Linked DNA regions of Homo sapiens: region 2 is linked to region 1. Evidence: fine-mapped expression QTL. A gene starts in region 1. The other region holds a variant in brackets. All regions are shown on one strand. Distances are between the middles of the regions.

What was found. PIP is the estimated chance that this variant, and not a neighbour inherited with it, causes the effect.
Region 2: its variant is fine-mapped to the expression of PIAS3 in whole blood (TOPMed, PIP 0.94).

The regions. Positions count from the first base shown.
Region 1 is chr1:145,854,020-145,866,485 of GRCh38, reverse strand. It overlaps PIAS3 (protein inhibitor of activated STAT 3), which reads left to right and starts at 7,405. Exons shown (of 14, transcript NM_006099.3): 1 at 7,405-7,519; 2 at 9,480-9,897; 3 at 10,055-10,139; 4 at 10,368-10,418; 5 at 10,660-10,750; 6 at 11,606-11,740; 7 at 11,923-12,028. The coding sequence starts at 7,496. RefSeq lists silencers at 6,599-6,808, 7,279-7,368.
Region 2 is chr1:145,981,891-145,994,356 of GRCh38, reverse strand. TXNIP (thioredoxin interacting protein) reads left to right here. Exons shown (of 8, transcript NM_006472.6): 6 at 1-76; 7 at 190-341; 8 at 471-1,922. The coding sequence ends at 506. Among named protein-coding and RNA genes, the nearest start is that of TXNIP, 8.5 kb to the left of the region's middle. RefSeq lists an enhancer at 1,570-1,649. The variant TC/C (reference allele first, on the strand shown) is at 4,978.

The DNA.
Region 1 (12,466 bases):
TTTCTGGAAACAAATATTAACAGTATGTCTTTATTTTTAAAAACATTTTTTTACAAGTAGATTTTTTTTTTGAGGCAGAGTCTTGCTCTGTCGCCCAGGCTGGAGTGCAGTGGCATGATCTCAGCTCACTGCAACCTCTGCCTCCTGGGCTCAAGTGATTCTTGTGCCTCAGCCTCCCAAGTAGCTGGGATTACAGGCATGTGCCACCATGCCCAGGGATACAAGTAGATTTTGTTTTTTATTTTGCAAATAGACTTTATTTTTAAAGCAGTTTTAGGTTCACAACAAAATTAAGCAGAAGGTACAGAGATTTTCATATATTCTCTGCCCCCATGCAGGCACTGCCTCCCCAATTATCAATATCCTCACCAGAGTGGTTTATTTGTTATAATTGATGAACCTACATTGACACATTATTATCATTCAGAGTTCATAGTATACATTAGGGTTCACTCTTGGTGTTAGAGAGTCTGTTGGTTTGGACACATTTATATTGACATATATCCATCATTATGTTATCTTTTTTTTGTTTTTGTTTGTTTGTTTGTTTGTTTTGAGGCAGGGTCTTACTCTGCTGCCCAGGCTGGAGTGCAGTGGCATGATCATAACTCACTGCAGCCTCAACTTCCTGGGCTCCAGTAATCCTCCAACTCAGCCTCCCAAGTAGCTGGGGCTACAGGCGAGCACCACCACAACTGGCTGATTTTTCTGTATATTTAATAGAGACCAAGTTTTGCCATGTTGCCCAGGCTGGTCTCAAACTCCTGGGCTCAAGCGATCCACCTGTCCCAGCTCCCCAAAGTGCTGGGGATTACAGGCATGAGCCACTGTGCCTGGCCATCTCTATATTATCATACACAGTGGTTTCGCTGCCCTAAGAATCCTCTTTGCTCTGTCTGCTCATCTCCCCATCCCTGCTAACCCCTGGCAACCACTGATCTTTCTCCCATCCCCAGTTGTGCTTAGTTGGAATTATACAGTATGTATCCTTTTCAGACTGGTTTCTTTGAGTTAGTAATATACATTTAAATTTCCTCCATGTCTTTCCATGGCTTGATAACTCACTTATTTTTAGTACCGAATAATATTCCATTGTCTGAATGTGTCACAATTTATTTATCCATTCACCTACTGAAGGACATCTTGATTGTTTCCAAGCTTTGGCACTTTTTTTTTTTTTTTTTTTTTTTAGCAGAGTCTCACTCTATCACTCAGGCTGGAGTGCAGTAGGGCAGTCTCAGCTCACTGCAACCGCCGCCTCCTGGGTTCATGCGATTCTCCTGCTTCAGCCTCCCGAGTAGCTGGGATTACAAGTGCATGACACCACATCCAGCTAATTTTTTTCTATTTTTAGTAGAGACGGGGTTTCACCATGTTGGCCAAGCAGTCTTGAACTCCTGACCTCAGGTGATCCACCCACCTCTGCCTCCCAAAGTGCTAGGATTACAGGCTTGAGCCACCATGCCTGGCCTTGGCAATTATTTAATTTGTTTTTGAATGAAATTCACAAATGGCCCTATAAGTCAGCAACTTTCAAACTTTTTGATCCCTAGTAAGAAATAAAAAAAAATTTTTTTGAGGCAGAGTCTCACTCTGTCACCCAGGCTGGAGTGCAGTGGTGTGATCTCAGCTCACTGCATCCTCTGCCTCCTGGGTTCAAGGTATTCTCATGCCTCAGCCTCCTGAGTAGCTGGAATTATAGGCGTGCACCACCATGCGTGGCTAAGTTTTGTACTTTTTGAAGACACAGGGTTTTGCCATGTTGGCCAGGCTGGTCTCAAACTCCTGTCCTCAAGTGATTCTCCTCCCTAAGTACTGGGATTACAGGTATGAGCCACTGCATCTGGCCAAGAAATACATTTTGTATCTTGTGTATACATAGCTCGAATAATACTTTACTATTTCTCTTCTATTCTTTGCTAATATACTCCATCAAAATGCATCCACTAATGGGTCAAGACCCACGGTTTGAAAAATAGCCCTCAGTGAAAATGGGGTTTGACACTCTTCCTTTCCACTTTCTCGAATCTGTCACAGCTCTAATCTTTTTTCTCTGCCTTGGGACTGTTGAATCCATGATTTTTTTTTTTTTTTTTTTTTAAGGGGAGATTGAGAGACCTGGATTTTCTTCAGGATATACTTTCTAAAGTATTTTATCAAGTGTTAAACAATGTGTCTATATTTGACACACATGGTCTCACTGTTCTTTGTCCCAGGTGACAAAAGGGATGAAAAGTCTGATTCCTGGGTAGAGGATGAAGGGATACCCAAGTTTCATTTTTGCCTGTGATTCCATTCTCAGACTGAAAAAAAAAATGTATCTCTCTTGGCCACTTCCCCTGGGTCTCCTCCTCTGCCTGCCCTTCCACCAGGCATGCTGTTAGGTGAAAATGAGGCAGTGAATTCCTCTAAAATCTGGAATTGCAGTTTGGTGGCCCGCACGCTGATCCCTCCCCATTCCTTCTCTCAGTCCACCCTCTGCTTGGTTACACTGGGTCAGACAGCAGCAGTTTTGGCAGTAAAGAGGCTGGGTTGAGAAAAAAGAGTGGGGAGGGGCTGCCATGGAAGACAGGGGGCTACACAAGGGCTGCAGAGGCCAGCTCCAGAGTTTGGCCAAGAGTGAAAAAGAGCATCTGAGATATCTGGATCAGATCCTAGAGAAGGTGCAGAGGTTTTACGTGGATGGGCACGGGACTGCTTTACGGCCAGGAAAATGGAAAAAGGAGGGATTGATGGAGAAAGGGGGAAGAGGTGCAGCTATTGAAGAAAGATCATCAAAAGGGTCTGAGTCATTTCTATCAAGGGGAACAGAACCTCTCCTTGCCTTCCTGCTCTCAATTACCAATGTATATTAAAGGACTATTACATTTCTTGTTATATATGACGTGTGGGGTGGGGAGAATGAAGAAACTGTAGAGAGAAGGGTCCAGAAAGGGGGAGATCATTGGGCTAAACTCAAGAATGAGTCAGGAAGCAGCTTTGGTAATGGAAGCCAGGACTTTGGCTCCCTCCGGGGCTCCTGGAAACTGATTCCAGGATGGGCTGAGCTATGGGAGTGGTGAGTGATGTTAATGTTAACACAGGAGTAGAAACTTCCTTAGCCCCTGGTTTTCCCAGTCTCCCTCCCTAAAACTCCACAAACTTACCTCAACAGCCCCAGTCTTAAAATTTTTCTTGAGTTCATAAATTTTTTTCCCCAAAGTAGCTATAATCCTAATGTTCCCTTTATTCCTCCTGGGCTCTCTAATGGGACTTAGCAGGGACTTATGATTCCTGCTTCATCTCCCCACCCCATTCCCCAGGCTTGAGATGTAGGAGTATGTGGGTGAAAGTAGGTGAAACCCGATGGGCCATGATCAGGTTCAGACTATGTTTTTGAATGCCTTCAATCTGGAACTTTGCTTCTGATTCACAGTTTCCCTCCTTTGGTAACATTAATTTATTAAACAGATATTTAAGGAGTCTACTATTTGTCAGGCACTGGGAATAGAGTAGAGGCAGCACAGAAAACCTTCTTATCCTTTTGGAGCTTGCATGCAGGATAAGATTCAGGTTCCCCGGTTCCGTCATCCTGTAGGGATGCTAGAACTTATAACCTCAAATTAACTTTTTTCCAATTTATTTTTTCTCTCTTTCAATAACTTTAGTAACCTCAAATTAATTTTTTTTAGATGTATTATTGCTCTGTCACCCAGGCTGGAGTGCAGTGGTGTGATCTCAGCTCACTGTAATCTCTGCCTCCCTGGTTCGAGTGATTCTCCCACCTCAGCCTCCCAAGTAGCTGGGACTACAGGCATGCGCCACCACACCTGGCTAAGTTTTGTATTTTTAGTAGAGATGGGGTTTCACTATGTTGGCCAGGCTGGTCTTGAACTCCTGACCTCAAGTGATCTGCCTGCCTCGGCCTCCCAAAATGTTGGGATTACAGGCGTGAGCCACCATGCCTGGCCTTCAAATTAACTTTTTTCGTTTGTTTGTTTGTTTTTTGAGACGGAGTCTTGCTCTGTCGCCAGGCTGGAGTGCAGTGGCACGATCTCAGCTCACTGCAACCTCAGCCTCCCGGGTTCAAGCAATTCCCCTGCCTCAGACTCCCAAGTAGCTGGGATTACAGGCACACGCCACCACGCCCGGCGAATTTTTTGTATTTTAGTAGAGACGGGGTTTCACTGTGTTGGCCAAAATGGTCTCGATCTCCCAACCTCATGATCCGCCCACCTCGGCCTCCCAAAGTGCTGGGATTACAGGCGTGAGCCACCGTACCTGGCCCAAATTAACTTTTAAAGGAGATTCTTCCTTCATGAAATCACTAGAACTCAAGGTGAGGTTTTCTCTTAAATGTTTACAGCTTTATTTATTTATTTATTTATTTATTTATTTATTTATTTATCTAGAGATGGAGTCTTGGTCTGTGCCAGGCTGGAGTGCAGTGGTGCAGTCTCGGCTCACTGCAACCTCTGCCTCCTGGGTTCAAGCAGTTCTCCTGCCTCATCCTCCTGAGTAGCTGAAATTACAGGCGTGCGCTGCCACGCCTGGCTAACTTTTTTGTATTTTTAGTAGAGACAGCGTTTCTCCATGTTGACCAGGCTAGTCTCGAACTCCCGACCTCAGGTGATCCGCCCACTTCAGCCTCCCAAAGTGCTGGGATTACAGGCGTGAGCCACCGTGCCCAGCATTTACAGCTTTACTTATTTTTTATTTTATTTTATTTTATTTTTTTGAGACAGAGTCTCTGTCGCCCAGGCTGGAGTGCAGTGGCGCGATCTCGGCTCACTGCAAGCTCCGCCTCCCGGGTTCACGCCATTCTCCTGCCTCAACCTCTCCGAGTAGCTGGGACTACAGGCGCCTGCCACCACGCCCGGCTAATTTTTTGTATTTTTAGTAGAGACAGGGTTTTACCGTGGTCTCGATCTCCTGACCTCGTGATCCGCCCGCCTCGGCCTCCCAAAGTGCTGGGATTACAAGCGTGAGCCACCGCGCCCGGCCATTTACAGCTTTATTGACGTACAACTGATATACGTCAATATGTCTCTCCATGTAAAATGCATGTATTTGAAGTATACAATTTGATGTGTTTTCATATGCATATACACCCATAAAACCATTACACAATCGAGATAATGAACATATCCATCACTTCCGAAAGATCCCCGCTTTGTCTCTTTTTAATAATCCTCCCTACCTTCCTCATCCTGCAACTACTGAAAATTCTTAGAAATACAAACTATAGTAACTTTTGATCTAGAGGACTGAACAGAACAACAGCAAAAAAGATCTCAGGACCTGATGAAGACTCAGGTGTTGGAAGGGAGCAGCTGGAATTTAGAACTAGTTGAGTCTGAGTTTAGCTTGAAGCGCTCACCAATTTGGGTAGCAAAGCAGCAAGGAAAGAACCTGAGTGTTAGGAGAGGGTGGCATCTTCCCTAGGGACAAAAACCACAAAGTAACTGGGCCTAGTTCCAGTTCAACTGGCACCTTCAATCTTTGGCCTGGGTAGGGTCTTATGAGGAGGATTATACTGAAGGCTTAAGCTAAATAAAAGGATTTTTCCTATTTATTAAAGCCCTTTTTTGGTGTGCTGATTATAGGTTTAACATGTCTTGTCTCTGCTGCTAGACTGTGAACTCCTGCAAGGCTTTTATGTCCTCAGCACCTAATGATCCCTGATAAGCACTCAAATATTTATTGAACAAATTGCAGCCAACTATAAAATGCTGTGAGTTTCTCAGTATGTAGTGCGGGTACATTTCCCTTAAGTTGGTATTTTCTGGGTCAGGCGCGGCGGCTCACGCCTGTAATCCCAGCACTTTGGGAGGCCAAGGTGAGGCGGGCGCATCACGAGGTCAGGAGTTTGAGACCAGCCTGGCCAATATGGTGAAACCCTGTCTCCACTAAAAATACAAAATTAGCCGGGCGTGGTGACGCAGGCCTGTAATCTCAGCTATTCGGGAGGCTGAGGTAGGAGAATTGCTTGAACCCGGGGGGCGGAGGTTGCAGTGAGCCAAGTCGCGCCACTGCACTCCAGCCTGGGTGACAGAGTGAGACTTGGTCCCCCCCCAAAAAAATAAAAAAATAGGTATTTCCATGGATACAGAAACAGATTTAATTTGGTGCCTGCATGTGAGTGATCAGCTTGGTTGGGATGGGGCCTCTGGAGGGTCCAAGGCTTTGGAGGAAGGAGAGTGGGTAGGCAGTTCAGAGAGGGACAGAAAGATCCCTTTTGTGGGTAAGAAAACCCCTCTGTTCATCTTCAGCTACACCAAAGGTATGGGGGCTCTGGTGGAGGTATTCTGCACGTGTATCTAGGGTAGTTACTGTTAGGTACACTTTGGATTCAGTACCCCAGGCTTTGCCCTAGGGAGGGACAGTTGTCATTTCAAGGAAGACTGCTTTATACTGTCAGATACCTGGTTCACACCGGCTTAGCAGCAGTGTGCCACCACCCCAATCCCATACGTAAGCGTTGAGGGGTCACAGAGGTAGTGAGAATGATGGGATCCAAGGATCTCGTCTCTCCAGATCCACTCACACCAGGAGTTAATCTCTCCAACGTCGAGCTCTGAGTCCCTCCCTCTCTCGCCCGAGCTCCGCCCCCCTTCCCTCTTGGCGGTCCTGGCGGGCTTCCCCTGGAGGGGGCGGCCCCAGCCCGAGCGCTAGGCCGGGCGGAGCTCCGGCCCGGGCGGAGCCGCGGCCGCCGCGTCCGGCTGCTGGACCGAACTTCTGCCGTGCGGACAGCAGGAGCAGCGCCGAGCCCCATTCCCCCACCTCTCCAGCTCGCCCTCTGAGCCTCCCGAGCCCTCTCTCCATTTCCCACAATTGTGCTGGTAAGTCCCGCTCCCCGCACCAAACTTTTTTTTGCTGCCGAGTTTGAGTCCTACGATCGGACCACGAGCTGCACTGTAGTTGGTGTATGGGGGAGGAGGAGAGGGTGAATTACTGAATGCCGACTCCACGGCTTCCCTAAGACGGATCAGCGCTCGCCCATTTCCCGAGTTGGAAGACCTCTCGATTTTAGTTGATTAAACTTATGCAGAGATGGAGATGAGGGTTTGCGCTCCAACTTCGCTACCCCCTCCCCCATTTCTCTGAGCTCTAGCAGTTCCCGATACTTTCCCTCCATCTTTCAAGTATCTTTGGCTCCCTAAAAGCTTGTCCCCTCCCAACTCTGCCGTGGCAAAGCCCCCCTCCACCAGGCACTTCGGGCCCGCCTCCTCCCCGTTGCCCTAGGGACCCCGCGATCTTGGGGGCCATACACTCCCTCCGGGGCTACGCGTCCTGCCAACCGGCCGCAGACGTGTAGCTGCTGGGTCGGCTGTGGAGGGAGGGGCTCAGGCTGGGGCTTGTCCGAAGCCAGGCGGGCGGGGCCGGGAAGGGGAGGTATAGGGGGCCGGACTGGGCGGAGCAGGCGGCATTTGCGGCCGGCGCCAGGGTGGAGAGTTGTGCGCCGGTCCCTGGGCCTGAGCTCCGGCTCCGGCTGGGGCGCCTGCGATGTCTCAAGATGGCGGAGCTGGGCGAATTAAAGGTACCGGCCCCCTCCCCCCATCCCCATCTGGACTCAGCCCGGCGGTACGCCGTGTCCGGGAAGCGACCGAGACTGGGTGCCGGGGCTCGGGTGGGCGCCGACGACGTGGCAGGCACGAGCTGCTGAGGATGGGAGAGAAGTAGCTGAGAGCGAGGAAGGGGCTGCGGCGGGGCTCCGGGGGCGGGGCTGCGGGGCAGATGTAGGGGTGGGGCCGAGGGGAATTGCAGCTGTTGGGGGCTGAGGCGCAGGGGGCGGGGACGAGGGGTAGAAGTCGGATTTAGTAGTAGGGGCGGTTGTTGGGGTAGGGCCAGGGGGAAAAGGTGCTGTAGAGGCACTGGGGGCGAGTCGATCAAGGCCAAGAGATGCAACAGTAGGGGGCACATGCAGGGATGGGACCGCGGGGCAGACGTAGGGGAGGCTCCGGGGGAAAGGCAGCTGAGAGGATAGGGTCTTTGGGGCTACTCTCGGGATCCGAGCTTTGGGAAATACCAGTAGGCTGCTGAGATGCAGGGGGCGGGGCTGTGCGGGCCGATACCTCGAGGGGTGGGGCAGAAGCATCCTGGAGGCTCAGAGGAAGGTCCTGCCGTAGTGAATCGCGGTGTTTGGGAAGAGGCAGAGGCATGTGAAACTATGGGATAGAAAGGTGGGAAGTTATAGGGGAAGCTAATGGAGAAAAAAAGACAGGACAGAGGAGATAAGGATGGGGAGAAAGAGGAGCAAGTTTCTCATCACATTCCATAAAAGGGGTCCAAGACAAAGCCTCCTATGAGAAGAATTGTGTAGGGCTAGCAAGCCCTGCACATGACAGGATCTCCTAGAGATTCACAGAAGGGAGTCTTCTAAGGAGAGCGCTCCCCTCCTGCTACATAGAGTTTGGAGGGTGACCACATCTGAGGACATCTCATAGAACCTCAAACTACCGAGTTCATCCGCCTGCCTCCTGGTTTTCTTCTGCCCTTTGAAATGGGAGCTATGGTCCTGGGAAGGCTGGAGGTCTAGCCACTGGGCCCAGCTACCTTCAGGGGATTTGCGATTCTGTGCCCTGACTCAGAGGCTTTTCCTTCATCCACCCAGGGTCTCTGTTTAGAGCTCTGCCCTCTCCTCTTCCACCCCTATAGGGGGGCGCTGTAAGTTGTAGAGGAGTATTAATTTCTCTGTGTAGGAGAGATGCCAGATTATGGTTCCTGGCAGATAGAGTAAACAGGCAGGATACTTGGACTCAGTGATTCACTGTTAATCTCCCCGACCCAAGTTTTGGTCCTGTTTCCCTTCCAGAAAAATAGGACTAAGTTGTGGGGAGGGGGTGGTTATATAAACGATTCCAAGAAAGGATCTGGGGAAGTTATGAGCATTGAACCCTGACCTGAAAACCCTGGCCACAGAAGCTTCAGAGGCTTGGGGGAAATAGCTGAGGTGAATTAAGGTGGTTGGGAGGGGTGGGCTGAAGGGCACAATCCTCCAGCCACCTAGCCCCTTTCTTCCCGTGGGGCTGTCTGGCTTGAATCCTCTTGTCTCTCCCTCCTTCTCCCTGTCTCCTATCCTGTTCCCAGGAGGCTGGGATGGGTTTGAGAGTCTGAGAAAGGGCAAGAGAGGAGATAAGCAGCTTAAAGCAGAGTCCAGGGATGGAGGCGGGAGGCTGCATGGACTCGGAGGTGTGTCTGAGGGTGGCTTGCTGTCTGCCATTCCCTGCCCCACTCTGGCTGCTTCCAGGCCTGGGGAAATAGTGTTGCTCAAGCTCGGGGGTGGTGGTGATGATGCTGACCTGATGGTTGCTAAAGTGGGACTGAGATGTCCCTTTGGATAGGTCGACTACCTGGCAGTAATCCACTAGCTGCGAAGCATCATCTTTCCCATCAGTGCTGGAGAGAAAGGCACTGCCCACCTGGTAGCTCAGCCCATGTCTTGGCAGGGCAGGCCTGTGCAAGGGAGGATGCTCAAGCTTCTCTGTTTTTCTCCACAGCACATGGTGATGAGTTTCCGGGTGTCTGAGCTCCAGGTGCTTCTTGGCTTTGCTGGCCGGAACAAGAGTGGACGGAAGCACGAGCTCCTGGCCAAGGCTCTGCACCTCCTGAAGTCCAGCTGTGCCCCTAGTGTCCAGATGAAGATCAAAGAGCTTTACCGACGACGCTTTCCCCGGAAGACCCTGGGGCCCTCTGATCTCTCCCTTCTCTCTTTGCCCCCTGGCACCTCTCCTGTAGGCTCCCCTGGTCCTCTAGCTCCCATTCCCCCAACGCTGTTGGCCCCTGGCACCCTGCTGGGCCCCAAGCGTGAGGTGGACATGCACCCCCCTCTGCCCCAGCCTGTGCACCCTGATGTCACCATGAAACCATTGCCCTTCTATGAAGTCTATGGGGAGCTCATCCGGCCCACCACCCTTGGTATGGCTCTTTGTGGTCCCTTAGTCTTCTGGACTCCCTACCTGTTCCCCAAACATTTCTTAGGCTTTAGTCCTATGGGATCAGTGACCTGGGATGGGGGCGATTTCTGTGGCTGCCTGTGCATGGGCTTGGAATAACTGCCCCTTTGTATCCTCAGCATCCACTTCTAGCCAGCGGTTTGAGGAAGCGCACTTTACCTTTGCCCTCACACCCCAGCAAGTGCAGCAGATTCTTACATCCAGGTACATCTCTTCCAGTCTTCCTGCCTCATCCCTGGTCTCTGCTTTCTGACTTTCTTCTCTTCTGCCCTGTGCTCTTCCCTATCCCTCCTCCTATACCTACTTGTCTCTTGTTCTTCTGTGTGTCTCTTCTCTATCTCCTGGACATCTGACTTTCAGCCTTTCTGTGCATTCACCCTTGCCCTCTGGGGGCTACATGCTGACATCTCTTCATCTCCCTCCCTGTTACAGAGAGGTTCTGCCAGGAGCCAAATGTGATTATACCATACAGGTGCAGCTAAGGTGAGTTCATCCTCCCTGCCTATCCTGGGTACCCACTGGGGGTAGGAGTGAAGTAGGGGTATGACAGATACCCTTACGAGATGTCCCTGCTCTGCCACTGCCTACTGCAGCCCTGCGACTCTTGTTGGATGCTGAGGGCTTCAGGCATCTATGACTGATTTTCTGGGGTTCCCTGTCTCTCTGCCAGATTCAAGTTAAGAAATTTCTTCCCACTCTTTCTTCCTTTCTCATCTCTTACCAGGTTCTGTCTCTGTGAGACCAGCTGCCCCCAGGAAGATTATTTTCCCCCCAACCTCTTTGTCAAGGTCAATGGGAAACTGTGCCCCCTGCCGGTAAATGCTCTCCCCTTCTTCTGTCAGTAATCCCTTACCGTTTCAGTTCATAAATATTAACTACAAACCTATTCTGAAAGAGACATGCCTAGCACAGTGCGTGGCACATAGTAGGTGCTCAGTTTACTGACTGAATCAATAGAATCTCGAGAGTATTAAGATAGGGCTGAACAAAGGTTTTGTGAGAACTCGGAGGAGGACATTAGTTCAACCCGAGATGTAAGAAAGACTTCTTTTTTGTTTTTTTTTTTTGAGACAGAGTCACTCGCTCTGTCACTCAGGCTGGAGTGCAATGGTGCAATCTCTGCTCACTGCAACCTCTGCCTCCCTAGTTCAAGCAATTCTCTTGCCTCAGCCTCCCAAGTAGCTGGGATTACAGGTGCCCACCACCCTGCCCGGCTAATTTTTGTATTTTTAGTAGAGACGGAGTTTTACCATGTTAGCTAGGCTGGTCTCGAACTCCTGACCTCAGGTGATCCACCCACCTCGGCTTCCTAAAGTGCTGGGATTACAGGCATGAGCCAGTACACCCGGCCAGAAAGACTTGACCCCAGAGCTGAGAGTTAGAAAAGGTGAGGCATCCTTATTCCTCCTCCTCAGGGACTCAGTGAGTTCCTTTTTTCTCAGTCAATAAATAAGCTCTCCTTTCTCCCCAGGAGTGAACCCCACACATAACCCTAGACAGTGCTCCAGTTTTGTGAGCCACTGAATGGGCCTCCATCCCCTTGGTCAGTGAGTGAGCGAGTTGGCCTTCCCTCCAGGGATTGAATAACCCGAGACAAGATATCTTTTGTTCAAAGAGCAGAGCCCCTTCCCAGAGCCACTTCTCCACTGACCAATCCCTCCCTTCTCCAGGGTTACCTTCCCCCAACCAAGAATGGGGCCGAGCCCAAGAGGCCCAGCCGCCCCATCAACATCACACCCCTGGCTCGACTCTCAGCCACTGTTCCCAACACCATTGTGGTCAATTGGTCATCTGAGTTCGGACGGGTGAGCACAGCTAAAGCAGGTGCCTGGAAAAGCCTGCTGAGGGTGAAGGGGAACCATCCAGTGTCCTGGGTTGGGGAAGCATTTTCCTCTTTATGAGTCTGTCTCTGGTCCTCATGGAACAAAAGTGGGCAGTGGTGGTATGAGAAGCAGAGGCTAATTGTCTACCCCCTGCCTCCAAGTAGAATTACTCCTTGTCTGTGTACCTGGTGAGGCAGTTGACTGCAGGAACCCTTCTACAAAAACTCAGAGCAAAGGGTATCCGGAACCCAGACCACTCGCGGGCACTGAGTGAGTAACATCTTTCCTCTCTTCCCCACCTGATCTGGATTCAAGTCTTCCTGGCCCTCCAGCCTTCATAATTAAACCCATACCTCTTTTTTGACAACTTACTCCCCTTCTCACATGAACCCCAACCCTCCCCCTCTACCCCTGACCAGTCTTCCAGTCTTTATAGTTGAAGTTGGACCACTCCCAGGCACCCTTGAATTTCCAATCATGTATCTGCTTTGCACCTCACAGTCCCTAACTCCAGCCCTGCTAGAATATGGGCTCTCCGGACTGGAAAGAATCTTAGGGGTCCTCTAATCTAACCCTCACATGATGCTTCAACTCCTCCAGATCATCTCTAACATAGCCAGAGTGTCACGCTATGTTTAAGCATCTTCAGGGATGGGAAAATCCCCCACACCCAGCCTTCATCATCCATATCCCAGACCACTTCCATGT
Region 2 (12,466 bases), 130 kb before region 1:
AGAACATCCAGCATGGCCAGCCGAACCAGCTCTGAGATGAGTTGGGTAGATCTGAACATCCCTGATACCCCAGAAGGTGAGCCAGACCTAATGTCTTTTCTTTGTTTCTGGTCTACCTGGGTTTGTAAAATTGTGATGGTCCAGCATTTCTTGGGCAGGATTCTTATGTGGCCATATTTTCTTTTCTAGCTCCTCCCTGCTATATGGATGTCATTCCTGAAGATCACCGATTGGAGAGCCCAACCACTCCTCTGCTAGATGACATGGATGGCTCTCAAGACAGCCCTATCTTTATGTATGCCCCTGAGTTCAAGTTCATGCCACCACCGACTTATACTGAGGTGAGGATTGTCATCTTTACTGTTAAATTTGTCCTAAGCTTTCTATAAGAAGTTGACTTAGACGGATTGCTAAACTGGTTTGTTCTTTTTGTTCTTACCTGAACTGAAATAGTCTGTTTCTTTCTTTAGGTGGATCCCTGCATCCTCAACAACAATGTGCAGTGAGCATGTGGAAGAAAAGAAGCAGCTTTACCTACTTGTTTCTTTTTGTCTCTCTTCCTGGACACTCACTTTTTCAGAGACTCAACAGTCTCTGCAATGGAGTGTGGGTCCACCTTAGCCTCTGACTTCCTAATGTAGGAGGTGGTCAGCAGGCAATCTCCTGGGCCTTAAAGGATGCGGACTCATCCTCAGCCAGCGCCCATGTTGTGATACAGGGGTGTTTGTTGGATGGGTTTAAAAATAACTAGAAAAACTCAGGCCCATCCATTTTCTCAGATCTCCTTGAAAATTGAGGCCTTTTCGATAGTTTCGGGTCAGGTAAAAATGGCCTCCTGGCGTAAGCTTTTCAAGGTTTTTTGGAGGCTTTTTGTAAATTGTGATAGGAACTTTGGACCTTGAACTTACGTATCATGTGGAGAAGAGCCAATTTAACAAACTAGGAAGATGAAAAGGGAAATTGTGGCCAAAACTTTGGGAAAAGGAGGTTCTTAAAATCAGTGTTTCCCCTTTGTGCACTTGTAGAAAAAAAAGAAAAACCTTCTAGAGCTGATTTGATGGACAATGGAGAGAGCTTTCCCTGTGATTATAAAAAAGGAAGCTAGCTGCTCTACGGTCATCTTTGCTTAGAGTATACTTTAACCTGGCTTTTAAAGCAGTAGTAACTGCCCCACCAAAGGTCTTAAAAGCCATTTTTGGAGCCTATTGCACTGTGTTCTCCTACTGCAAATATTTTCATATGGGAGGATGGTTTTCTCTTCATGTAAGTCCTTGGAATTGATTCTAAGGTGATGTTCTTAGCACTTTAATTCCTGTCAAATTTTTTGTTCTCCCCTTCTGCCATCTTAAATGTAAGCTGAAACTGGTCTACTGTGTCTCTAGGGTTAAGCCAAAAGACAAAAAAAATTTTACTACTTTTGAGATTGCCCCAATGTACAGAATTATATAATTCTAACGCTTAAATCATGTGAAAGGGTTGCTGCTGTCAGCCTTGCCCACTGTGACTTCAAACCCAAGGAGGAACTCTTGATCAAGATGCCCAACCCTGTGATCAGAACCTCCAAATACTGCCATGAGAAACTAGAGGGCAGGTCTTCATAAAAGCCCTTTGAACCCCCTTCCTGCCCTGTGTTAGGAGATAGGGATATTGGCCCCTCACTGCAGCTGCCAGCACTTGGTCAGTCACTCTCAGCCATAGCACTTTGTTCACTGTCCTGTGTCAGAGCACTGAGCTCCACCCTTTTCTGAGAGTTATTACAGCCAGAAAGTGTGGGCTGAAGATGGTTGGTTTCATGTTTTTGTATTATGTATCTTTTTGTATGGTAAAGACTATATTTTGTACTTAACCAGATATATTTTTACCCCAGATGGGGATATTCTTTGTAAAAAATGAAAATAAAGTTTTTTTAATGGAAAAAAAAATGTCTGTGAGATGGCTTTGGAAAAGTTTTTGGAAAGAAGGTGTGTCTAAAGGAGTTTTCCTCTACTTAACAATCCACACTAATGAAAACCTTGTGGAGAAAACACTCCCTATGGACCCTAAGGAATGTCGGCAGAGTGGGGGCTAGAAGGTGAAGAGGGAAACCGTTTGAGGCATGTTTCAGATTCACTGAACAACTATACTGGGATTTTCCGGTTGTCTAAACTAGTTTTCCAAATCCATAGGTAATCATTACTAAATTCCTTCAGTTTTGGAGTTCATGGGTTCTTGAAATACAGGGAGATGATGTTTATGAGGGCATTTGAAAGAAAAGAGTGGCGGTTCCTTTTTTTGAGACAGTCTCACTCACCCAGGCTGGAGTGTAGTATGATCTTAGCTCACTGCAGCCTTGATTTCCTGGGCTCAAGTGATCTTCCCATCTCCGCCTCCCACATAGCTGGGCTACAGGCATACACAACTACGTTCAGTTAATTGTGTGTGCGTGTGTGTGTGTGTATGTGTTTGTTTTTTCTACGCTCAGCTAATTTTTTGATTATTTGTAGAGTTCGGGTTTTGCCATGTTGTCCAGGTTGGCCTCAAACTTCTGGGCTCAAGTGATCTGCTGGCCCTGGCCTCCCAAAGAGTTGGGAATACAGGCGTGAGACACCACACTCAGCTGAAGATCCCCTTTTTACAATATGGTTTTATCATAGGGTTTCTTCCCAATGTAAACTTGATTTATATACTAACAAGGATAACTTCAGGACTTAAGAGGTTATAGAGTTATGAGTATTAAATTCTTTGGAGGCAGCTAACCATTTTTTATTTTCACAGTTCCTAACCAAGCACATAACTCAGTAAATGTTTGCTAACTATTCAACTTCACCCTCATCCCTTAGATGATTTGATGGTTCCTATTCCTTGTAGGGTAATAGTAGTAGAGTAATACCACAATCCCATGTTTAATTGGTGTGATTTTCTTTCTTTCTTTCTTTCTTTCTTTTTTTTGAGATAGAGTCTTGCTCTGTCTCCCAGGCTAGAGTGCAGTGGCCCAATCTTGGCTTAATACAATGTCCGCCTCCCAGGTTCAAGCGATTCTGCTACCTCAGACTCTTGAGTAGTTGGGATTACAGGCATGAGCCACCACACTCAGCTAATTTTTGTATTTTTAGTAGAGACGGGGTTTCACCATGTTGGCCAGGCTGGTCTCGAACTCCTGACTTCCCGTGATTCACCCGCCTCAGCCTCCTAAAGTGCTGGGATTACAGGTGTGAGCCATGGCGCCCAGCAGTGATTTTCATTCCTAAAGAACCGACAGGTGGAGAAACCCTGGGATGGCCAATTTAAATATTTGCACAGATCTGGTCCTGGTCCTTATTTGGGAATTGATTTTTCTGAGGACTTCCACAAACTAATTCCAAATAACAGGCTCCTGGAAATTCTACATGAAATCAGTGTGGGGTGTTGTAGCTCTAGCTACTCACAAGGCTGAGGCAAGAGGATCATTCAAGCCCAGAAGTTCTAGGTTACAGTGAGCTATGATTGCACCACTTGCACTCCAGCCTGGGGGACAGATTTTGTCTCAAAAATAAATAAATAATAAGCAAACTAAAATCAATGTGAATTTAACAGAAAGTGAGATTTAAAAGATCCTTTTCCATTTCAATCCTCATTTTTCGTTTATCTTTCATTTTCCATAGCACTCTCCTCCCTCTCTTTGTCTCTCTTTCATTACCAAAGTGTCAGTCTCTATTTCTCCCTATTGCCAGGGTGACTTTCACCTGAACTCTCCGCCCCTTTCTCACCTGTGCAAGAATTTAGTGGCTCCTCTCCTTCAAATCTGTGACCAGGAAATTAGGTCAAAGTTGATGGAAAAGTTTTTTCTGTAGCTTGTTTTCCAGGGCCTAGAGGGGTGAAGCAATGATAAGAGCAGGCCAGAGAGCAGGACAAAGGAATGGAGAGACCATGGAGTACATGAGCCTGGTTGTGTGCACAGTTGGGCTACCAGTACCCAATATGAGAAGAGGGATGGCTTCGAAAGGATAGATAACTTTATACCCAAGGCCTCTTAGAGATCTGATCCTAGGGCCAGGCGCGGTGGCTTACGCCTGTAATTGCAGCTACTCGGGAGGCTGAGGAAGGAGAATCACTTGAACCCAGGAGGTGGAGGTTGCAGTGAGCCCAGACTGCACCACTGCACTCCAGCCTGGGCGACAGAGCAAGACTGTCTCCAAAAAAAAAAAGAGATCTGATCCTGGAAGGGCCAGAACATGGGCATCTCCTCCGGATACCCTTAATATCCTTTATCCAGCTGTCCAAATAGAACTTTCTATGATGATGGAAATTTTCAATACAGTAGCCACTAGCCCTGAAATGTGGCTACTATGACTGATAAACTGATTTTTTTTCTTATCTTTTTTTTTTTTTTTTTAGATAGGGTCTCATTCTGTCTCCCAGGCTGGAGTGCAGTGGCACAATCTTGGCTCACTGCAGTTTTGACCTCCCAAGCTCAGGTGATTCTCCCACCTCAGCCTCCCAAGTAGCTAGAACTACAGGCACATGCCACCATGCCCAGCTAATTTTTTCTATTTTTTGTAGAGACAGGGTTTCACCATGTTGCCCAGGCTGGTCTTGAACTCCTAGGCTCAAGCAATCTGCCCACTTCAGCCTCCCAAAGTGCTGTGCACACATTTTTTTTTTTTTTTTAAACAGGGTCTTGCTCTGTCTCCCAGGCTGGAGTGCAGTGGCATGATCTCTGCTCACTGCAGCCTCCACCTCTCAGGGTCAAGTGATTTCCCATCTCAGCCCCCTAGTAGCTGGAACTACAGGTGCATGGCACCAAGCCCGACTAATTTTTGTATTTTTCATAGAGATGAAGTTTTGCCATGTTGCCCAGGCTGGTCTCAAAACTCCTGGGCTCAAGCGATCCTCCCACCTCAGCCTCCCAAAGTGCTAGGATTACAGGTGTGAGCCACTGTGCCCAGCCTGTAACTGAATTTTTAATTTTGTTTAATTATTTATTTATTATTATTATTATTTTTTGAGATGGAGTTTCTC[TC/C]TTGTTGCCCAGGCTGGAGTGCAATGGCGTGATCTCGGCTCACTGCAACCTCCACCTCCTGGGTTCAGCGATTCTCCTGCCTCAGCCTCCCAAGTAGCTGGGATTACAGGCATGCGTTACCACACCTGGCTAATTTTGTATTTTTAGTAGAGATGGGGTTTCTCCATGTTGGTCAGGCTGGTCTTGAACTCCCGACCTCAGGTGATCTGCCCATCTCAGCCTCCCAAAGTGCTGGGATTACTGTGCCCGGCCCAATTTTGTTCAATTCAATTAAACTTTAGCTTTCTGTGACTAGTGACTGTCACATATGTGACTAGTGACTAGTGACTAGTGACTGCCATATTGAATACCACATCAAAATCTAAGGGAGTAAGCAGCTAGAGCTGTTCCCCCAGAGGAAACCTATCCTTCTCTTACAGCACAAAAACTCCACTCTACTTCTTTTTGCCTTGTGTATACAACTTCTACCTCACCCGAGGACATTTTCCGCGTACAGGCTTGCTTCAGTACACTTCCTTGGGGAGTGGCTTAGCTATTTCCCCACTTAAGTGGGGGAATATTCTGGGTCTTCTTTGCCTATCCTCTTCTCACGTGCCTTTTAATTTTTAAGTAGCTATGACCTACATGTACAATGATTAGAGGAGATGTGGTTCTGAGTATCATTTATTCAGTAGGTTTAATCTGGTATAGGGAGATCTGAGAGAACTAAAAAAGAAAACTACCTAAAGAGAGAAAAGGGCAAGAAAATAAAATTAACAAGAAAAAGGGGCCGGGTGCTGTGGCTCATGCCTGTAATCTCAGCATTTTGGGAGGCCAAGGTGGGTGGATCATTTGAGGTCAGGAGTTTGAGACCAGCCTGGCCAACATGGTGAAACCCCGCCTCTACTAAAAATATAAAAAATTAGCCAGGCGTGGCAGGCACCTGTAGTCCCAGCTACTTGGGAGGCTGAGGCAGGAGAATCACTTGAACCTGGGAGGCAGACATTGCAGTGAGCCAAGATCACGCCACTGTACTCCAGCCTGGGAGACAGAGAGAGACTCCTTCTCAAAACAAAACAAAACAAAAAACAGGTACTTCAACAACCAGAGTCATTGGCTGCCTTGATTGATACCTCTGAACAGACTGGAAACACAAGGATCTAACTTGGGTTGAGGCACTGGGAAGGAAAAATGTGGAGGGGAGGATCTGACAAAGCACATGTTCAGCAAAAAACAATCACACAAGAGCTGAAGGGCATGAAGTGGAGTCAAGGAGTGACCTTTGCACAATTCTTTTTTCTCTTTTTGAGAGAGGGTCTCACTATGTTGCCCAGGTTGGAGTGGAGTGGCTATTCACAGGCACAATCATAGCAAACTCTGACCTTGAACTCATAGCCTCAAGGGATTCCCCCTACTCAACCTCCCATGTAGCTGGGACTACAGGCACACGCAACCTTGGCCCAATTCTTTCAACAGACTACAGATCCCTCTTAGAATTATTTTCTTGGGCTACCTCTAGGTGATAAAATGCATAAGGTGAATAAGGAAAATATTTTACTGACCTTCCAATGATCACAAGTCCCTGCCCCCAGGCATCCTGGCCTCAATAGTTTGGGGATGGGGGATGGGAAGTTTTTTTGTCCTTTCTCTGTTGTGACCTCACATCGACCTCCATTTCATAAGCTGAAACACTCCTTTTCAGAGAGCTAAAGATCCAGGGCTGCAGGTCCTGGCACAATAGGTAAGTCTAGAACCCAGAAAAAGTCCAAAGATTAGTCTTCCTATACTATTAAGAAAAAATAGGCCGGGCACGGTGGCTCACGCCTGTAATCCCAGCACTTTGGGAGCCGAGGTGGGCGGATCACCTGAGGTCAGGAGTTCGAGACCAGCCTGGCCAACATGGTGAAACCCCATCTCTACTAAAAATACAAAAAATTAGCCAAGTGAGGTGGTGCGCACCTGCAGTCCCAACTACTTGGGAGGCTGAGGCAGGAGAATTGCTTGAACCCCAGAGAGGGAGGTTGCAGTGAGCAGAGATCATGCCACTGCACTCCAGCACCTGGGTGACAGAGCGAGACTCTGTCCCAAAAAAAACAAAAAAAAAAAGAAAGAAAAGAAAAGGAAAAGGAAGAAAAAATAGCATAGTATAGTAGTTAAGCACGTGGACACTGAAGCCAAACTATCTAAATTAAGATCTTACTTCTACCATTTAACCAGCTATGTGACCTTGGGCAACTTGTTTAAACCTCTCTATGTAACAGTTTGTTTATTTATAAAATGAGAGATAATAATAATGCCTACCTCAGAAGATTGTGAGAAATTTAAAAATATATGTAAAATTTAGAACAATGCCACATAAGTGATTGTTATCTAAAATAAAAGAAGAGACATATCCCTCATTACCCCCCTGATTAATTTACTTTCTTTCTTTCTTTTTCTTTTTTTTTTTTTTTGAGACAGAGTCTCACTCCATCACCCAGGCTAGAGTGGAGTGGGGCGATCTCAGCAACCTCCTCCTCCTGGGTTCAAGCAATTATCTCGCCCCAGCCACCCAAGTAGCTGGGATTACAGGCATGCACCACCATGTCTGGCTGATTTTTTTATTTTTAGCTGAGGTGAGGTTTCACCATGTTATCCAGGCTGGTCTCGAACTCCAGACAGCTCGACTCAAGCTATCCGCCTGCCTCGGCCTCCCAAAGTGCTTGGATTACAGGAGTGAGCCACAGCACCCACTTAGCCTCAGGGTGTTCTTTTTCACACTTCCAGTGTGCTTCACAAGCCTGTGGATTAAACCCTGTAACCTTCTAAAAATTATTTGAACTTTCTTAACTTTTCAGTACACAACTCCAAAGAAAAGCTTCCCACCATTTGGAGTGATAAACTGAGGAACAGAGAGTGCTGGATATACAATGTGATGCCACAGGTCTTCCAGACTTTTTCTTTCAAGGTATTGCATTCCATTTGATTTTTCTGTGGGGTGGACTAGACTGAGGAGCACAAAGGTCAATGGAGGTGAGTCCACGGATGAGGCCCAGTTTAGCCTATTTAGGCTATTCTTGTTCTGTCCCGACCTTTCCCTTTGCTTGACCCTTCCCTACTCTCTGCTGGGCCTGTTATGTAAGGAGAAAAGAATGAACAGACTTTGACTATCAATTGATTGGTCATCTCCAGGCAACAGAGTGATGGGAGAAAGAAGACAGGGAAAACAAAGGTACAGGATTGTGAATTCCATGTGCCCTGAGTCCTGAGATGTTAGGCAACGTCCATTCTCAGTCCTTGTTGGGCTATGAAGTTGCTGACAATCAAAGTTAATCAAATGGTCAGTAAACAGGTTCTTGGAAATGTCTGGCTAGGTTCCCAGCTTGGATATTTTTAACCTCCTGGACAGATGGATAGAACAAGGATTTCAGCTGCTGAGAGGGGAGGAGGTATTCAGGGGCATAAGAACTGTGCTTCCTTTTTTTTTTTTTTTTTTTTTTTTTTTAAGAGATGAGTCGCACTCTGTCACCAGGCTGGAGTGCAATGGCGCAATCTCGGCTCACTGCACCTCCGCCTCCCGGGTTCAAGTGATTCTCCTGTTTCAGCCTCCTGAGTAGCTGGGATTATAGATGCTCACGACCACGCCTGTCTAATTTTTGTATTTCTAGTAGATACGGGGTTTCACTATAGATCCGCCTGCCTTGGCCACCCAAAGTGCTGGGATCACAGGCGTGAGCCACCGCGCCTGGCCAACATTTGTGCTTCCCTTATATGGTTCTGTGGCTAAAGATCCCTCCCTCTCCACTTCAGATTCTGACTTCCTCCTTCATCTAGCCAGACTCAGGGTTAATCCTTTGTTTCCTGCTCTCCCATTTCTCTTTATTCCCTGTCTTTCATGCTTGCTTCACCTTCCAACTCTGAGGAAACTCTGGTTTCTGTTTTACCTCTGGATTCCTGTAGATCAGGAAGAGGGTGGTTGGGCAGGGGCCAATGGCTCCTTTGTTTCCCCTGGAGATAGGTGTAGCTCTGCCAGTAGTACTCAGAGGCTTCTCTGCAGTTCTATCTCCTCAAGCTGTCCCGCAGGACAGCTTCAAACTCTCCTGCAAACTCATGCATCCCACTGCCCCCAACTCTTGGGAACAGAATTTGACACCCTGCAAGCCCAGGCCTGTGCTTCACATACTTTTGGAAAGTAGAAGAAATGATCGTGAAGGTCAGAGAGGTTGGAAATGGTGACCAAGTCTGACAAGGCAAGATCTGCTATCTCTGGTTTGGGAAAATTAGGTCACCTGGAAGGTGGAAGGGCTGGGAGAGAGGTCGATCATTAGCAAGTTCAGAATATCTTTTTGACTGTGAGGGAGGCCTGGAGGTTAGGAATGAAAGTGAGGAAGGAGAGACAAAAATTATGATAATTCCCTATTTGGGGTTTCATCTTCCCCTGGTGAATACCCTTTAAACTGAATACCCTTCTATATCCAAAGACTGCTTTCTTCTTTCCTCTTGTTCTTTCCTGTATCTCAACACCATTTCTGATAGTGCCCACCCTGCTTTGTGGTTGGAGGAGAAAATCCCTGACACAAGTGCTCCAAGATTGACGGGAAGCTGGTGGGGAGATGGACTTAGGTAGGGAAGGGAGATCACACTGTGATTCATGTTTCTCTTCTTTTGTCTTGATTTTAGCTGATGATGAACCTAAGCAAAGCTGGAGGAAACACTAAGCCAGAGGCAGCAAATCAGGGGCCCATAGGCCAAACCAGCTTGCAGACATTTAGAAACCCATATTTCCGGCTGGGTGCGGTGGCTCACACCTGTAATCTCAGCACTTTGAGAGTCTGAGGCAGGCAAATCACCTGAGGTCAGGAGTTAGAGATCAGCCTGACCAACACGGCGAAACCCCATCTCTACTAAAAATACAAATTAGTTGGGCATGGTGGTGCAGGCCTGTAATCCCAGCTAGTCAGGAGGCGGAGGCAGGGGAATTGCTTGAACTTGGGAGGCGGAGGTTGCAGTTAGCCGAGATCGCACCATTGCACTCCAGCCTGTGCAACAAGAGTGAAACTCTGTCTCAAAAAAAATTAAAAATAAATAAATAAATAAATAAACCTGTATTTCCTTTCCTAAACATTTGAATCGGTTGTAAACATTTAAAAATCAGATTTCACTAACATCTACCGTTCTGGTGTCTCTTAAAAAGCAATCATATTTGGTAACACTGAGTCACATTCTTTCATGGCATTAATCAGCTGGAGCTGAAGGGGCTAGACAGGCTCTGGTTTGCCAGTTCTCACCACTCCCTATTGCATTACACTCACATGCTTCGATCTTTTATATCTGCCTGACTCCTGTTTAGTGTTTAGGTTTGTCTTAGTTTGTTACCTCTGCTCTAAGTAGAGCTTCTCAAATATTTCTTCTGCAGGACCCCTAAGATACAAGAGAGTGAACCATTTTCCCCCAGGACTCCCAAAGCAGTCTAAAGTAGCCTGTCATAACCCAGAAATGTCTTTGAAGTACCTATTTTCTTTAAAAAATGCAAATTTTGATTTACACTGCATAATATATTTGTGTTGGTTTTAGCATAAAAATGATTTATCTTCCCCCACCAAATCTTAAAAGTAAAATTAACACTCTGGAAGATGTGCCATGTGTATTCTGTGGCTCCAAATAGTCTTCACCATATCACCCTAGGAATAATCCAATTTAAACAGCACTGTATAAAGGCATGAGGTAAAGAGAGACATGGAGAAAAGACACAGAGAAAGAGTCAAAAAGAGGAAAAGAATTTGAAAAACAACAAGAATGAGTCTGAGTGACAAGCTTTCTGTCTGGTCCTCAGCCAACCCTCCAGGCCTGGCCCAGTCCAGCCACTGAGAAGTGTATAAACATCCCTGATATCTCTGGACAGGTGTTAGTGTGGCGGCTCAGGGTAGAAAGCAAGACCCAAAACAGGAGCCAAGCCAAGTAAGGGAGAGGTGAGGGATCCAGAGCAGCCAAGTATGGTCAGATGAGAAAGATTGTCTAGGTGTGCCAGGAAAGAGGCTTGGAAAGGAAATGGAAGACTTAGAAAAGGGCTGATCAGCATTTGCCCTTTCTCCCACTGAGCCCATTTTGTGTCACTTCCTCTTATCACTCTGCCTAAGAAAAATGAGGTACAAGCATTAAATTGTCCTCCTTTGAAGAGGGAATTTCTTCTCCAAAATGGCTACATCTCTGGTCATACCAGAGCCTAAGGAGGATGAGTACCAGGGCTTCTTTCCCTGTCCAAATGGGACTCTACCTATTCTCTCCAAGACAGGAAATACCTCAAATCCACATCCCTAACTTAGGTGAGTTTCTTCCACCTACCCCTTTTGGTAAGACAAAAATAGGTCTAACTCCCTCCCTCCTAATCTAATATTATCAGCACTGCCCTGAGTGTACCAAAGAATATCAGAGACAGGATTTGGATATTTTCCCCCTTTCTCTACTGTAAACCAGGATCAATGTGGAATCACAAGGATGGGAACTATTCAGGAAAGGGCTGGGAGCACAGCCCAAAGCTGAGGATCCTGGGAGGAGGAGAGGTTTGAGAATGGAGAATAATCCCAGACTCTGAGGTCGTGGGGACCTAGCCCCTTCCTGCATTGGTTGGGATCAGGCCTAAGGAATCTCTGGATTCCTTCCCCAGCATCTTGACATCTTGGATTCCCAAGGTGAGAGCACCTAGCCATTACGGTCCCGCAGTTAAGCTGGATCATTGTCTTCCCACTGACCCCCATTAAGGTTATGAGGGGGACCTCCCTTCTTTCCTAGATACAAAGAGGCAAATTAAAGTCTATTGGAGATGAGCCAAAGGCCTTTCTGAGGTGATAGCAGGAAACTGGAACTTATTTCCAGTTTTGTGGTCCCAAATGACCTTGAGGAAATGTGAGCCCCAGAAGGGGAAAGGTCAGTGGAGAAGAGGTCACTACTGGTTTGGCCAGATTAGTTAGTGGAGCTATTCTCGTTGAGCTCATTTCTCTTCTCCATCCTCTGGCTGGACATGACATACGAGGGGAGATGAAGAGGACATGCCCACCAGCCCCTTCTTCAGTCAGAAATCTACTGGTGGCCTGTTTGATTTGAGTCCTGGCTTGCAGATTGTGACCTTGAACTCTGCTGTAGGTGGTGTCCCTTTCTTGCTAGTTGATGGAATTGTTGATCTTCTTGCTACCCAAGCTGAAGCAGGTTCTTGGAAACGACTGGCCAGATGCCTGAGGTATCTTTAGTCTGCCTAGGCTGAAAATAAAGTGGGGAAATCCAGCGAATGGAATGTGTTCAGCCAAAGCTAGGCACATCCTGCCTTTGTTCTCAGGCCCATTTGAATTCTTACAGATGGATCAGCATAAGCCCTACTATGTGAGAGCTAGAAGGGCTCCCAGTGGACACATCTAGTCCAAATTTATATTTCACACATGAGGAATACTGAGGAGTGGAGACATACATGACTTTCTGAAGGGCACGAAGCTATGGAGTGGTGAAACTAGGACCACAAAATAGTGTGAAACACTGTCT